2 separate regions of the Homo sapiens genome follow, and region 2 is linked to region 1. The links come from fine-mapping of genetic effects on gene expression. Tissue or cell type: whole blood. Region 1 holds a variant in brackets; the other region holds the start of a gene. All regions are shown on one strand. Distances are between the middles of the regions.

The links. PIP is the estimated chance that this variant, and not a neighbour inherited with it, causes the effect.
Region 2: it holds the start of LOXL2, and the variant in region 1 is fine-mapped to the expression of LOXL2 in whole blood (TOPMed, PIP above 0.99).

Annotation. Positions count from the first base shown.
Region 1 is chr8:23,427,954-23,436,057 of GRCh38, forward strand. ENTPD4 (ectonucleoside triphosphate diphosphohydrolase 4) reads right to left here. Exons shown (of 13, transcript NM_004901.5): 11 at 7,439-7,524; 12 at 6,364-6,525; 13 at 1,209-5,201. The coding sequence ends at 4,973. Among named protein-coding and RNA genes, the nearest start is that of ENTPD4, 26 kb to the right of the region's middle. The variant G/A (reference allele first, on the strand shown) is at 4,070.
Region 2 is chr8:23,399,934-23,408,037 of GRCh38, forward strand. LOXL2 (lysyl oxidase like 2) reads right to left here and starts at 4,187. Exons shown (of 14, transcript NM_002318.3): 1 at 4,021-4,187.

The DNA.
Region 1 (8,104 bases):
ATGCTGCCACGGATGGATGCTCCAGGCAGATCCACTCTGCCAAGGCGTGCTTTGGGATTAGCCGGGCACTCCTTTGTCTTTTCATGACGTTTCCAAAAGAAGACACTGTGACTCTGACAGAGGTGACCTGCACCTCACGACCCCCTCTGTGCAAACCATTAGCATTTCCGGATCTCAAAAAAACCAAAAAAACCCACAGGGCACATGCCAATTCATAGGACAAATGGAAACAGACTGAAAACAAAAACACAGAACCATGGCTTTTCAGACCTGTCAACATGGTTAGTGTTGGAAATAGGCACTGACTTCTCTTCCACCAAGTGGAATAAAAATTTAGATGTCTTTTAACATCTTAGATATTTTAACGTATTTAAAGTCAGGCAAAAAGCCCTATAGTCATTGCACTGCCTCAAAAATTATTTACGACAGTTCTATCTTAATGCTGTGTCCTGTTTTCCTAGCGATCAATGGCTTGAGGACCTCCCTTGAGCTCACTTTGCTGGCTCTGTTCTCTCATTTTGTTTTTGCGCTTCCCTCTCCTCTCCGGCATGTCTCAGGCCTTTATTTTTGTTGGTCCTAACAGCTGGTCCCCTTCCCTTCCCATCTGTCTCTATCATCTATTTTCAGGTTATGGCTCAGGCCCACCTTCCTGCTCCAGGAGAACATCTATGTATTCTCCAACGGCTGAGAAACATGCTGAGCGTCTAATGTCATCCTCCATATTGGTAACACGTAACATTAATAATGACAGTCATAATTTTCTGGAAGTAAGCCAAAGGTTCTAAGCTTAGATCGAACTGCAAAACAGTGTAACATAAAGTCAGCATTTGCTGTTACTATTAAATACATAAAAATTGGTTAATTTTATTACTTTTCCTTGTCTATATACAAGTAGGTACTTAAAATGGTGACCTTATAAACAGTCATCTCAGAGTGGCAATTATTGTTGGTGAATGGCTTAACGTCGTGGGTTGGTCACTACTTGTGAAATATCTGCTTTCTGAGCTGCAGAGAGTGTGGACGCCCTCTCCACAACCCCACACAATTGTGCTTCACTGTATGCACACCCAACACAACACATGCAAAGAGTGTGCGTCAGACTCAGACAATGTATTTCACTGAATTTGGACTCAAGTTCAACTCATCATTCTAATGAGTAAGAAGATTCAAAGATGACAAGGAAGCAAGCCCACACAGTCTACGGGCCATGGGATGATGAACTTTCGTTTTATTGATTTTTCAGTACCCAAGTGTGGCACTGTAAGGCTGCCACATACAGCAAGTGACATGACACCAAAAGGACCTTCCGAGAGTATTATTCTTACTTTGGATGGAAGACATCGCTTAAACAAAAAACATTTAAAGATGCTCCCTTGCTTTTTATAATTCCTAACTGTAAAATATAATTTTAGTACAGAACAAACAAATTCTCCTTGGTTGGTCACATCATTCATTATTGAAAGGGAAACTTAGTATCAAAAGAAACAAAACACTGAAATAAATAACTAAGTAATTTACTGAAAGGTAGTTTTGTTGCATTGCACACAACTGACCGCAGAGAATTCTAAAGCTGATTTTTTTCTTAAAGGATGAAAAACTCATTTGCCATTTTTAGTTTCTTGCTAAGTGATACATGCTCCTTATAAGGAAAACTACTCTGTGTAGGCCTGAGTTTAAAATGTAAATATCTGTTTATCCAGAGTTTGTTAATCTAGAGTACACAGATGTGGAAAACTGGTGGTGAAAAGAGGGACCTACCCAGCCTTCAGGGTGGCTGGGCAGGGGCCCCATGTTACTGGCCTCAGCCACCAGCAGCGTCTTCACTCCGCCCAGGTCAGAAAGCACTGCCTAAAGCCGGAGCTTAGGATGAACATGGGCAAAAAGCACTGGTACAGTTCCATGTGTTTCTCTTCTACTGTAATGTCCCCAGAGGGATTGTGAAATGTCTGAGAACATCCCCTGGAGGAGGTTTAAAAGTGAGAAGCCCATGATATGGCTATGGAACATAAGCACTTATTGCTGGCATGTTTCTACCAAGATTGAACACAATGCTTTTCTTTGATAAAGCTTTGGGCAAGTTCCTAGTCCAATTTCTTCTGCTACAAGTACACAGAATTTACTGCCTTCTTGGTCAGCTCTTGGTATGAATTCTTCTCTTGAATTAAGATCCTCCCTGGCTTGTCTCTCACCCACCCTGTATCTCTTAGAGAAAGCACCTGGCTGTCTTCACCTACGCGAGACCTTCTCTGGAATGTGATTTGCTGCGACTGCAGACATCTCCATACGGCATAATGAACTCCCTTGAGTGGTCTCTTTTTAAACAATTTTGGGTGAGGGGCAGGTTTCTTGGTTTGTTTCAAAACTCATCTTGAAAATAATCTAGACGGAAAAATCCGAAGTGAAATTCTGGTGCAACAAATATTTTAAGATTGAAGTTTGGTTACTTCTCTTGTCCATCTTTTCGTGCCCACAAATGGAAACTACATTCCTGATTTAAGAGGATGCTTCTGTCTGTATCCTTTTTTGAACTGCATTGTTCTCACAAGGACCAGCAAACTTTTTCTGTAAATATTTTAGTAAATATTCTAGGCTTTACAGGCCACATATAGTGTCTGCTGCATATTCTTCAACGTTTTTTCTTAGGCAACTGTTTAAAAATGGCAAATCCACTACTACCTCTCAGCTGGAGCAATGAGGTTTTCTCAGCCCTTGTTTCAGGATCCTCAGGTATGTGACTAACTCTTCTATGCCCAGAGCTGGAAGGCGGGGTCCCCTAACTCCCTGGGTGCCCACCTGCCCACTTCAACCATTTGTGGCCCCTTCCTTTCCTTTCTTCCCTCTCTGCTGCTGACACCAGTGGCTCCATCGCCAGCTCCCTGCAGCCTCCACCAATAATCCATGGCTCCTCCAGGAAGTGTCGCAGGCAGGTGGCCAAGACCAACTTATTAGGTAGCCAGAAGCTCACCCCTTTCTTAACAACTTTGACCACGAAGCGCAAATACGATGCAGGTAAATCCAGAGGCAGAGCCTGGGTCCCCAGGCTGCTGGTAACACGCTTTGAAATCCAGGTGAGGGAGCCATGCCCCCACAGCTCTTGCCTCAAGGATCAGATGCATTTTACCTTCCAGAGACGCAGGTTAAGCTGCACCTGAGGCAGTTTGAGCCACAACTGGGACAGAATTCCCTTGGTCTTCTCTTCTGATCCCTCAGCAGAACTGCCCCTAATGCTCAGTTCATGGCAATACAGGCCTTTTCTCTCCTGTTTCTCCAAACTCTCCCAGCCTCTGCCCAGTACCTAGTTCCAAAGCCACTTTTATAATATCCTCAGTTATCTGTTATAGCAACAACCCCACTTCTGGGTACTAATCTGCTACCAACTACAGGAATTTAACTGTTCTGGAGTTAGGGAACAGCACACACAGACACTCGCACAAAACAAACTCCACCTAAAAAAACTGTACGAGAATTCCCCAAACTTCTCAACTAAATAAATAGGTGAAAAAACACCAATCTCACATATGCCAATCCAATTGTCCTTTTTAGATTTTGGCTTAAATTGTCGAATTTTTTCCTTCAAAATGTGAATTTATTTCCTGTATTGGATGCAGACTCTTCCCTTCTGGATTTACAGTGGTGCTGCCAGCAACAGCCTCAGTCAATGCGGTTAGGAAGAGGACTCGGCAGGCTGTGCATGGGGTCTCCCAGTACGATTAAAAGCTGAGATGACTTTTAATTAAGGGGGGTGGGGGAAACACCAATTGGAAGCTGGAAGAAACTGAGGCACGATTAAGCAGAAACACTGAGGAATACTGAGCAAGAAGTGGGCATGTGCTCTAGTTCCAATAAAACCGAAACTGGTGAAACTAGGAATTTCCAATTCTTTCAAAACCACAGTGTTCTAATGCCACTGAAATATGGAATAAGGAGCGTAATTACCTGCGGTCAGGAAAAGATAACAGTAACGAGGATTTTTCTAAATAAAATGTACCAGTAAATTCTGAAGTGTGTGTTTTTAAAGAACCAGCATTGCCTCCCCTCACGCTGGTTTCTTGGGATTTTTCACACACTC[G/A]CACAAAGCTGTAGTCGATAGTTCACTATCACTTTTATAAATGGTTATCTCCTGGTGCCCATGTTTCTCTGTTTTGGATATAAATGGTTTAAAAAATTTAAATTTGCAAAGAAAACATATACAGTAACAGACCTGAACAATAAATAAAAAAAAAAATCACCCTCTTCAGGTTAGAGCTTTCAAGATAGAGAAAAAAGAGGATTATCATTTCAGGCAGTAAGTTTTTTGGTTCTATGAAAGCATCACTATTCAGTCCCCTCTCCACTGACAGAATGCATCTTTCCACCTCCCTCCAGTATCAAAGTGCATGTGTTTAAATTTAACATTCCTTAGAGAAACCCCAGAAATCTCATTTATTTTTGGCAGATATCCTGTGCAGCAAAAATCAAGTGAATTTCCCTCTTCCCCACTCCTCAATTTAATGCTGTACTCAAAATGGCTAAACGCAATACTTCTAGACAGCAGGGCTTATAAACAATGCATTTTTTTTTTTTGAGACGGAGTCTCACTCTGTCGCCCAGGCTGGAGTGCAGTGGTGTGATCTCGGCTCACTGCAAGCTCTGCCTCCCAGGTTCATGCCATTCTCCTGCCTCAGCCTCCTGAGTAGCTGGGACTACGGGCGCCCGCCACCACACCCAGCTAATTTTTTGTATTTTTAGTAGAGACGGGGTTTCACCGTGTTAGCCAGGATGGTCTCGATCTCCTGACCTCATGATCCGCCCGCCTCGGCCTCCCAAAGTGCTGGGATTACAGGCGTGAGCCACCGCGCTCGGCCTGCATTTTGTTTTTGTTTGGAGGAACAAAAAAGGGAAAGAAAAAACAAAACCACAGGAAAATAAAGAGGAGAAACCCTGAGGCAAAAATGGCTTTTCCTTTTGAGTCTTCGTGGAGCTGTGAGCTGGATCACAAGGTCCCCGGGGCATTCTGGGCGGGAAGGCCCTCCTCCATCCAGAGGGCGGCGGCCGAGCTGCTCCGGGGAGTGCGCCTGTGGATGCGCCGCAGCCGCAGCAGGTACAGCAGGATGGCCAGCAGCACCACCAGGAAGCAGCCAGAGAACAGGTAGTGGTTGTAGACAAAGGAAACGCCCCGCCAGTGGGTGTGACTGGCTCGGAAGGCCTCCTGCTGGATGTCTCTGCCCATGTGAACACCAAACAACAAACAGGACAGTAAGCAAGGAAAGGGGTGGAAAGGGTGCACAGGGGGACGGCGGGACCCAGGCCCCAGAGCTGCACTTTAGGAACTGCAACCCTACCTCTGAAATGGAGAACGGAACAGCCCAATGCAGGGGGCTTCTAAGTATCAGTGAGATAACATGTGAAAGTATACTCTGAAGTCGGTCATTATAATTTGGGCAACCAAAATCAGAGGAATTTAGAAGAGCCGTGAAGGTTTCGCTGATACAAAGAAGTCAACATGTAAACAAACTGCATGCTTGTGATCAGTAACACCCATGACTCACCATTTTTACAGTTAACCCAGTTAAAAGGGTTGCTGAGAAATGCTCAATTAAATGGAGGGGGTGGGGGGAAGAGCAAATGTCTCATCTATCAGGTAACTCAGGTTCTTAGCACAGGTCAACTGACAGCAGATCTGCAAACGTGAATGGGGAAAAACGCACATCTTTGTTCTACCCAAGCGCTGACTGAGATGTAGCATTTCTTTGACCATGAATGCAGACAACAAACTATCATTAGCGTTGGCAGCACCTGCAACTTTGTTACTAACGAAAATCACAGATCTTTCATGTCCCATTATGGTATCATCAATGCCTCAAAATATCATTGACGCTCATTGACTACACTGAAATTACAGAAAGTGCTAATTCTGCTGCCAGATCCTGTTATTTAATGTGTTAATAGAGAAGAACACATATTACAGTATCACAAACTTGTTTTCTGTAATATTTTGGTATTATTTCAATATGATGGTTTCTTCTGTAATCCTATGTATTTATACATGCATTTAAACAGTATTTGGAGAAGAGGCCTGAGTCATAAAGGTTAAGAACCCCGGAACTGACCCTTTTGCCGGGGCTGGGGAACAGACAGTTGAGAATAACCAAACACAGGGCAGTAGGACAGGAGTGCTGTGTATTACGGGATGGTAGGGTGAGAAGGGAGGAAGCACTTGTGGGGAGGGGGCAAGACCAAAAGCAAACGTCACTGTCCCTACAATTCTGCCGTGGCCGGCTCTAACAGCAATGCCCCAAACAGCCACAGACCACAGCTGCCATGAGGTGCTGTAACTGCAGAAAAGCATCTTTTTGATTCTCGTTCCCAAATTCACAGCCCTACCTTAATGGTAGAAAGCGGGTCCTGTAGAGGATGGCTCCAAGGGTCCACTGAACCTCCTTGTCGTAAACTTGCAAGGCAGTCTTTAAGCTTTTATAGTTGACAGGAAACGAAAAGCCCCTATGAAACACCTCAAACATCCAGGCCGATTTGAAGCACTGATACCTACAAACGGCAAGCACAAAGGCAAGTCAGACTGACTCACTCTGTCAAGATGGCACACACACACACACACACACAATCCTTCCCTCTGTGGGCAGCCTTGGGGCAGGGGCTTCCTCAGGCCGGCTCTCCCAAACCAACTGCGCGCGTTTCAAGGTTGATGTACTTGCTTCACATCCCTGGTCCCACAACATGGAGCAGTTCACCTGTCAAATCAATCAGTGCATGAACCCGGTCTCGGCATAATGTCATATATCCCTGAGATAGGTTTCTTTTCCAGCTGGCATTTCACCATGTACTCCTTGAATGAATACTGAACAGGTTCCAACCTCTTTGTACCTCAGTTTATTATAAAATGAGATGGTAGGAAGGTTCTCTTCAGCTCTGATATTCTATGACTCTAAATATTTATTAGAGGTTTATTTTTTGCCAAGCACTGTGCTAAGCAAGTAATAAGATACAATAATTAGTAAGATACAGTGTCTGCACTTAAGTGACTTACAATGAAAGGGGATTTTTAAAAAGCAACAGAAAAAGCAGAACATGATAAATGCATTGGCGAGGTAGGATGAATTCTTGAGACTCAGAGAAAGGGATGAAGTCTGATTGAGGGGACAGAGGAAGACTGGAAAGGGACAGCCTCTGGCTGGACTCTGATGTCTGGGCAGGACTTGAACAAGCAAAGGTATGAACAGGGGAATTTCAGGGGTAAGAGACAGTAAAAGTGACCAAAACAAAAAAGATACGGAATATGTCTGGGCACAAGTATTTGTCCCGTTTGAAAGGGGCCCAGGGTAGATGGGAAGAACAGTGAGTGAGAAGAAGCTGGACTGAGGCCAGGGTGTGGCAAGCCAGTGGGGCCAACACTGCATTATGGTTCTTAAGAGTGCCCTGGGCTTGACCTTCTAGTACTTACTTAAGCCTGTGGAGGTCAGCATGAGAGGCGTACAGTCCTCGGTCAAAGCGTTCCCGCAAAATGGACCACTTTGTTGCACAATAATCCTGAAAACAAATTCACCAAAATAGATCACTAGTAAAGGCTTATTAAAATTCTCACTTTAAAAATGGTTTACCAAATTTATATTTGTAACAAGCATATCCTTCCCATTAGGAAACACACAAGCTTAACTTATACAACAAATGGCAAGACACACAAACACTCAGGGAATACTTACTGATTCGCAAACACAATGCCTTGCCTTAAAATTCTGTCCAGGGTATTGTTAAAGAGAGCTTTGCTGTCCACAACCAACCTCTCCAAAACTGTTTAGTTTCTCCCTCCATGACTGCATGGTACGGGCATACATTTTTGGAAAAGTGAAGCAGTATTTTAGCTACTTCAAACTAAGTCCTACATCTGTGGAGGACACAGTACAAGCTACTGGGATAATAACTGCAAAAGGTTTTTGTCTTTAACAGAAGGGAAAGAGATCCCACTTTTCTTGAAGTTATTTGTTATAATAACTTTTATTGAGCATTGTGTAAGTGTGTCTTCTCAATGTAATACTTAACTCCTCGAGGTGGCTACCATCCCGACCTCTATTTAAAGGATGAAGACACTGCTGAGAGGTGGGAGATGGGC
Region 2 (8,104 bases), 28 kb before region 1:
TGGAATCGGGTTGACCAGTTTCTCTGCCTCTAACTGGCTATTTTATGGAAGGTCTGTTCATTCCCTGTTTCAAAGCAACAAGCGTAACAGCAGAACATCTAGGAGTCCTGTGCCAAGAGATTCCTTTTTCCCACATGATCTGCCAAGAAAGGAGAATTCCAACTTATGAGTCTCATTAACAAGGTGGAGAAATTTCTTCTTCGCTCCATTTCAAAAGCAAATAAACTTAAGTAATGAAAATGCTAAAAGCAGAAGGCTCTGGTGTTGTATTAGTCTGTTCTCATGCTGCTAATAAAGACATACCCGAGACTGGGTACTTTGTAAAGGGAGGAGGTTTAATGGACTCACAATGCCACATGGCTGGGGAGGCCTCACAATCATGGCAGAAGACAAAGGAAGAGCAAAGGAACATCTTACATGGTGGCAGGCAAGAGAGCATGTACAGGGGACTCCCATTTATAAAACCATATCTCACGAGATTTACTTCTCAGGGGAAAGATCTACCCCCATGATTCAATTACCTTTCATCGGGTCTTTCCTACAACACATGGGAATTATGACAGCTACAATTCACAATGAGATTTGGGTGGGGACACAGCCAAGCCATATCAGGTGTTGCATATCTTCATTGGTCAAATGCAGAATAAAGTCATGCATAAACTAAGGGCTTCAATGGGAAGCCTATATACCCCTACTTCTCTGTCATAGGATTTGAGGGCTTCAGCATGAAGGTACCAGCTGTCAGAGTACTCAGGTGATGCTCAGAGAGGGGAGATTGTCCTCTACTAGATTTCTTTCTGGGGCCTTTGTTTCTTCCAGGAATCCCAGCAACAGTCATTTCACTCATCCTATTTTTACACCTTGGAGTCAAATAATGAGGAAGTACACTGCTCTCTAGTTCAGAGAGGGCAGCTCTGAGCCCTTACAGTTTTGCAATGAGCTAGGAAACAAACCCTGGCTTCCTGATTTTGCAGTTCATTTATCTCAAGCACCAAATGTCCAATTACTAATATTTACACAGGGATTTCTGACAGCAGGTGTATAGGAAGTGATAAGCCCAGGATGAAGCCTGAGCCAAGAAGAACTCTTCAGAGAGCAGCTGAGAGTCCACGAGTAACATGGAGAACCAGAACCACCGAAGCCCAGCCATGAGGAGGCTGGGTTAGACCCTGGCTCCCTGGGTCACCAGCTGTGCCCTCTGGACAGCTTATCTGTTTATCCATTTCCTCAGCTGAGAAATGAATTTGAAAATACTCACCTAACTCTTTAGTGGGACCTTGTAAGAATCAAATGACATAGTGGACAGAAAAGTAGTTTGAAAGGAAGAACATAACAATAGGAATGTAACAAGTTACACAAATCAACAGAACTCAGATCAACTATAAAAAAAGACATTTTGAGGAAAATTGGGAAATGCTTAAATATAGACTGCTATTTGGCATTAGATGATACCAAATATTTTTTTTTTAGTTTTCTTAGGTCTAAATATGGCATCATAGTTATGTAAAATCTTTAGAAATCACACTGAAATATGTAGCAATGAAATGACATGATGTATAGGATTTGCTTTAAACTACTTCAATGACAGAAACAAAGGGACAGATGACGTACATGTGGCAAAATAACTGTTGAAATTCAGTGAGAAGCTTATGAGGCATCATTATACCCTTCTCTCTACTTTTTTTGCATACTTGAAATTTTTTGAGAATAAAAAATAAACAATGTAGTGTTTTCTGGGACTCAACACCTTCGCTGATGGTCATGTCTATCTAGAGCACAGAAAATCTGTTTCCTTCACAAAGCCCTTCCACACTGGCCATCTAGAGGTCAAAGGACAAGGACTTGGGAAGAGGCCAGGAGAGGCCAGTTGGAAAGAAAATAAAAGGAAGCATCTTTGCAGAATCTCCTATCTGTGATACTTAAAATGTCAGCCAATGTGTGGTGTTAAGTACGTTTTGTTTTCAGACCTGAGTTTCATACTCAACTTTGCCACTCAATGCCTAAGTGACCTTAGACTAAGTCACTTTCTAACACAAAGTTACAGGGAAGCAAATGCACATGCATGCACAAACACACATATACATATACACACGTGCACACATGCGTGCACACACATACACACAAGTGCACAAACGCGCACACACACATACACATGCAAACATGCACACAAACACAAATACACATATACACATACAGGTGTGCACACATGCACACAGGAATACATATGCACACACATTGCGTGCACACACACGTGCCCGCGCACACACACCTGTGTGCGCATATAAACACACACCGGTGCACACACATACACAAACACACTCGTGTGGAGACACACACATGCACACATACATGTGCCCACACATACACGTGCACACATGCATACACAAACGTGCGCGCGTGCACACACAGATTAGTGAGACTCAATTTCCTTGGGGAGAGCCTTGGTAGCCACTGGGGCCCATGGGGAGCACGCATCTTGTCATGGCTCTGGTGGCCATTCCAGGGCAGATACTAGGGACCAGGAAGAGGAACGGGACAAAGGTGAGGAGAAAGATTAAAAATTTAGTCAAGTTAGGATCCAGTGAGTCAGTCACTTATCTGGGAACTGACCAGGGAAATGAACTCTTCCTCTTCCACCCTAAACCCCAACCCTGACCATTAAGTACATGATACACCATCAATAACTAATTCATTCCACCAAAGATGACAAATGTTGTTTTGGGGTTCCAGGACGGACAGGCTAGCAGTGGTGTAGGGGAGGGGCCTGGAGTAAGAGGTATGGGTTTCAGTCCCCACATTGACTAACTCAGTGACCGTGAGCCTCAGCGTTTTTCTTCCTCTGGGAGAAAAAAAAAAAAAGTATTGTTTTTGAGATCTCTGCAGTTTCAAGATCTTAGGGACGAAACTAATTTGGAGCATGTTTCTGTCATGCACATCTCTCCCCTCATCAGGACTTGGGGTTTCCTAACCATATTGAGTAGTTCAGCCCCCTCCCTCGCCGTGTTCTGCGGTGTTCTCTTCCTCACACCCTCGCCCCGCTCCGCCCCGCACTCCGGCTGTTTTTTGATGGTCTTAGCTCGGGCACGGAGAGGAGGGAACCTCGCTTGTTCTCCCAATCATCTCTATTCCAGCGCTGATTCCTGGGACACCTCGAGCAGGCAGCCACACCCAGAGGGCTTCCAAATTTGGGCTGGTGAGAAGGGGCGCGGTGGGCAAAGCGCCTGCGTAAAAGTTGTAGGCACTTCAGACCACCGGACCAACGGCTCAAGATTGGGATCAGCTGTAGCCGTGGGTTCGCTCGTGCCCGTTCTTTCCAACTCCAGGGCTTCTAGGTGATGAAGGCGGGAGAGGGTCCCTGGTCCCCGGAGAGGCAGGGCGACTTGGGAGTGCATACCTGGCGTGCCGAGAGCGCCTCTGCTCCCGCAGGACTCACGGCGCTCCCGCGCTCCCAACAGCCTTTCGAGCAGGCTGGGGGTTGAACCGGGTTCAAGCAGTGGACGCTACAGCTCCCGGGCGCAGCCCCCGGGGTCCCCGCCCCCACTCCGTCCCAGCCCAGCACGCTCTACATCCCCAAAACCACAGCCCCGAGGGCAGTCACTGTCTCCCGACCCGTCCCCCGCGTGCCCCACTCCTCAAAGCCAGAATTCCGGAGACGCTGTCCCTGGAGCCACGCTGCACTCTCCAAGACGCCCAGCACACACCGAGACTTGACGGGCTCTGTCCCGCCTGATTACGGGCGCTCGGGACGATCCAGGGACCCAGCGCCTCGCTCCCCGGGCGCGCCAGCAGCCGCGCCGCGCCCGGCCCGTACGAGGTGGGGTTGGGCGGGGCCGCCCGGGGCGGCAGGAGGACCCGTTAGCCTGCACGTCCTCGCATCGCTCCCCGCAAGAAGTCTTTGGGAACCCCCAGGCACTGTCGAGAGGCAGCCCCGCGCAGGACGAAGCCTGGAGACCCCATAGGGACGCTCCCGCTTTCTCGCGAACCGCTTCGGGGAGGGGGTGGCGCGGGAAGCGCTCTTACTTGGTTTCAGGGATCCGCAGTGGCCGGGCTGGGACCGCGCTCTCCACGGTGGTCCCCCTCCGCTTCCGCCGCCGCTGAGCCCCTTTCTCGAGCAGAGGGGGCGGCTCTGGTCTCCGATGGCTGGAGAAAGCAAGCACCAAGCGTAGGTAGCCGCGCGCTGGAGTCGCGCGTTTACTCTTTTCCCCCTTACTTTTAACTAGAGGAGGATGGCAAACCCCTCCCCGGACCCACCCCCTTCCCCGAAGGCGGCCGCCGCAGCAGGCCCGGCCTCCGGCCTCTTTTGTTGTAATTCGAGAGCGGCCACTCCCAGGGCCAGAGGGAGCTCCGCGGGGGAGGCCAAGGCCTGCGGGGCAGCCCTTCCCAGGCTCCTCGCGCCCGGGTTTCCGGAGCCTGAGATGCCGGGAAGGGGGCCTTTCCTCGGGAGATTCCTCTACCCTTTCCTCCCTGCAGCCGTCCCAGAATTTAACCCTTCGATGTCCTTATCCACCAGCCTTAGGGCCCGTGCCTTGTCCACCTCCTATCCCGAAAACCCTGGCCCTCCTTGGCACATAATACACGCTCAATTAAAGCTGCCGAATGAAAGTGTTCAGAAACTTGCACCCATCTCGCCTGGGTTTCACCTCCCTTTTCCTGTAGGGGGAAAACCGATCCTGAACCAGTAAATAAACAGCCCCCTTTCGGCCAGCAGATCACGTCTATGGCCTTGGCCAAGCCTCTTCTCCGAGGACTAGTTTTCTTCTTTGTAAATTCAACGCTTTGGATTCCGTGACCTCTGGGGTCCTTCCTGGAATGGTAGGGCTGGGATTAACAAGCCCTGTGCTTGGGGACTGAACAGGACACAGCTAATGCGTGGCCATTGTGCAGAAGGACCTCCTGTGCCTGGCTCTGAGGCTCCGGGTGGGGGATGGGCATGCTGGGAGAGCCCTCTGCACAGAGAGGGCTCCTTAAGCAAGAGCAGGGCTTTGCCAGTCCCAAGGAGGCAGCGAGCTGCAAAACAAGGGACCCCTGTGCAGAAGTAGACTGTCACCTGAAAGGCGGCTCCTTCCTCAGTCCTCTCTTACTCCACTCCCTGAGGAGACAAACCCCTCCCAAATCTCACCTCCAGCCCAGGCTTCTCTCCTAAGCCATGGATATTTAAATCCATTGGCCCCGAAAGACTTTCACCTGGACATTCCCATGGCCGTAGCTAACCTGGCAAGCCCCAAACTTGGCACTGCAACTCACGGTCCACCTTGACTCCTGTGAGCTCTCCCAGGCAGATATGGGGTCTTCTCCGTTGCCTCCTCCTTACCCTCCCCACTGATCAGTCCCTGACTCTGGTGGGCAGTAGAGGGCAAGGGTCAGAGGAAGGGGGTGTAGTTATCAAAGGCAGGAGGAGGGATCTTTGTGGTGGTGGAACTATTCAGTGTCTTGAGATACAGAAAACCACACAGGTGATAAAATTGTATAGAACGTAATACACCCAATAAAATTTCAATTAAAAATTTAAAAAAATCCTCCGTGGCTCCAAGGTCCTCAAAATGTAATCTGAATCCTGGCTGGGTGCGGTGGCTCATGCCTGTAATCCCAGCACTTTGGGAGGCCGAGGCAGGCGGATCACAAGGTCAGGAGATCGAGACCATCCTGGCTAACATGGTGAAACCCCGTCTCTACTAAAAATACAAAAAATTAGCCGGGCGTGGTGGCGGGCGCCTGTAGTCCCAGCTACTCGGGAAGCTGAGGCAGGAGAATGGGGTGAACCCGGGAGGCGGAGCTTGCAGTGAGCCGAGATCCCGCCACTGCACTCCAGCCTCGGGGACAGAGCGAGACTCCGTCTCAGAAAAAGAAAAATGTAATCTGAATCCCTTGATTAAGCTGACAGGGCCTCTGGGGCATTTCCAGCCTGCCCAACTGCCAACCACATCTCACCTCTCCCCCTGGGCCTTACTTTCTGTGCTCCTATAAGCCTTCTATTTCACACCCCAGGACCTTTGAACGTGACATTCCCTTGGCTTCTCTGCACAGTAATGCCTGGTTATTGAGCTTTCACTCAGCTGTCACACCCTACACAGTGCCTGGACGTACCAGATGCTCAATAAATGCTGGTGAAACTGAGCTCTCCCCTTTCCCCATCTCCCATCCTTCCACTTCTAGTCCTACCCTCTCTTGCTAAAGCATTCACTAATAAGGTAGAAAATGAAAGGAGACCAACTTTGTAAATAATCTTTTGTCTGTTATAAAGAAAAGCAAACTTCTTGTGAAATATTCAGAAAATATGTAAAATGTAAGGAAGAAATTGTCACTCTGGTGTCTTATCACCCATAAACACCTACTGTTTGGAGTCTTTCCTTCAGAATATTTGTTCAACCAAATTGTAGTTACAGTTTTTGTATCCTGATTTTTTTTTTTTTTTTTTTTTGAGACAGACTCTAGCTCTGACTCCCAAGCTGGAGTTCAGTGGCGCAGTCTCGGCTCACTGCAACCTCCCCCTCCCAGGTTCAGCTTCCCAAGTCTGTCTCAGCCTCCCGAGTAGCTGGGATTACAGGCATGTGCCATCACGTGTGGCTAATTTTTGTATTTTTAGTAGAGACAGGGTTTCACCATGCTGGCCGGGCTGTCCTTGAACTCCTGGTTTCAAGTGATCCACCCACCTCTGCCTCCCAAAGTGCTGGGATTACAGACGTGAGCCACTTCACCTGGCCTCTGATTTTTTTTACTATATCATTTTGTGTTAATTTTTCAATGTAATTTTTAATGGTTTTAGACAGTTCTGGTCTGAAATTATTGTGCAATGGAGTCATTTCTCCATTATTGGATATTCAGTTGTTTACAGCTTTTTGCTAGTGTAAATTACGCCATGACAATTACCCCTGTGAAAGTAATATTTATTGATTGGGTACAGTGTGGTTCCTGCTAATTGTTACAGATGAGAAAGCCCTGGCTCAGAGAAGTGATTTTCCCAGCGTCACAGAGGCAGGGAATGGCCGAGCTGGGAGAACCAAAAGGAGCTTGACTCGTCCAGCAAGTATTAGTGGCCCACACTGGAGGCCTCAGTAAGTCCATCTCTGCCTTACCATGTCCTCACTTCCAAGAGGAAATGAGTAGAGTATCTGAAGTTTGCACTGAGTGTTTTATTGATGCCCTTTTGTTGAATTGAAATCAAGACCTAGGAGACTACTTCAGGACAACAGTAGACCCTTGTCCCAGATGAAACAAAATGATGGCGGGATGCCTTATGTCTGTAAGTCTGGATACACCTCCCACCCTGCCACCTCCACCACTCAGGTCCTGCACTGCTGCAGAGGCAGAGTCGTACAGTAGGTTCAGGGCATGCTTGTGCAGTCAGGGGGCCTGGGTTCAAATCTTGGCTCCACCATTAACTGATGTGAACTCCCTTTTCCTTCACATGCTTCATCTGTAAGAAGCGCCTCAAAATGCTCCTAAGAGGTTGAGTGGAGTGGCTTAAGCTTGTAATCTCAGCACTGTGGGAGGCCAAGGTGGGTGGGTTGCTTGAGTCCAGGAGTTTGAGACCAGCCTGGGCAACATGGCAAAACCCTGTCTCTACAAAAAATATAAAAATTAGCCAGGCGTGGTGGTATGGGCTTGTAGTCCTAGCTACTTGGGGCGCTGAGGCAGGAGGATCACTTGAGCCCAGGAAGTCAAGGCTGCATTTGAACTGAGATCATGCCACTGCACTCCAGCCCGGGTGACAAAGCGGTATCTGTTAAAAAAAAAAAAAAAGCTCCAAAGGAGTAAAAGGACTGAATGGGCTCAGACTCAGAACAGTCCCTCGTATGGTACTTGGACAATAAATGTTGCGTTGTGAGGAGGGCATCTTTGAGGAGGGCACAGTGACTCCTTGTCCCTCAGGGCTTCAGACCCCACACAGGGAGAGGGAAGGCAACACCTCCTGTCCACCCCATCCCCAGGGGTCATGTGAATTACTGCATTAGGATCCATTCCCAGAATGTGATTACTGAGTCAAAGGCTAGAGGCGATTCTTTCTTTTTTTTCCCTTGGCTTTTGCACTCTCTTGCCAAATCACTCTCCTACCAGTCTGGACCGACTTAGATTGAAAGAAGCATAGCATGTCCCAGTAGGCATA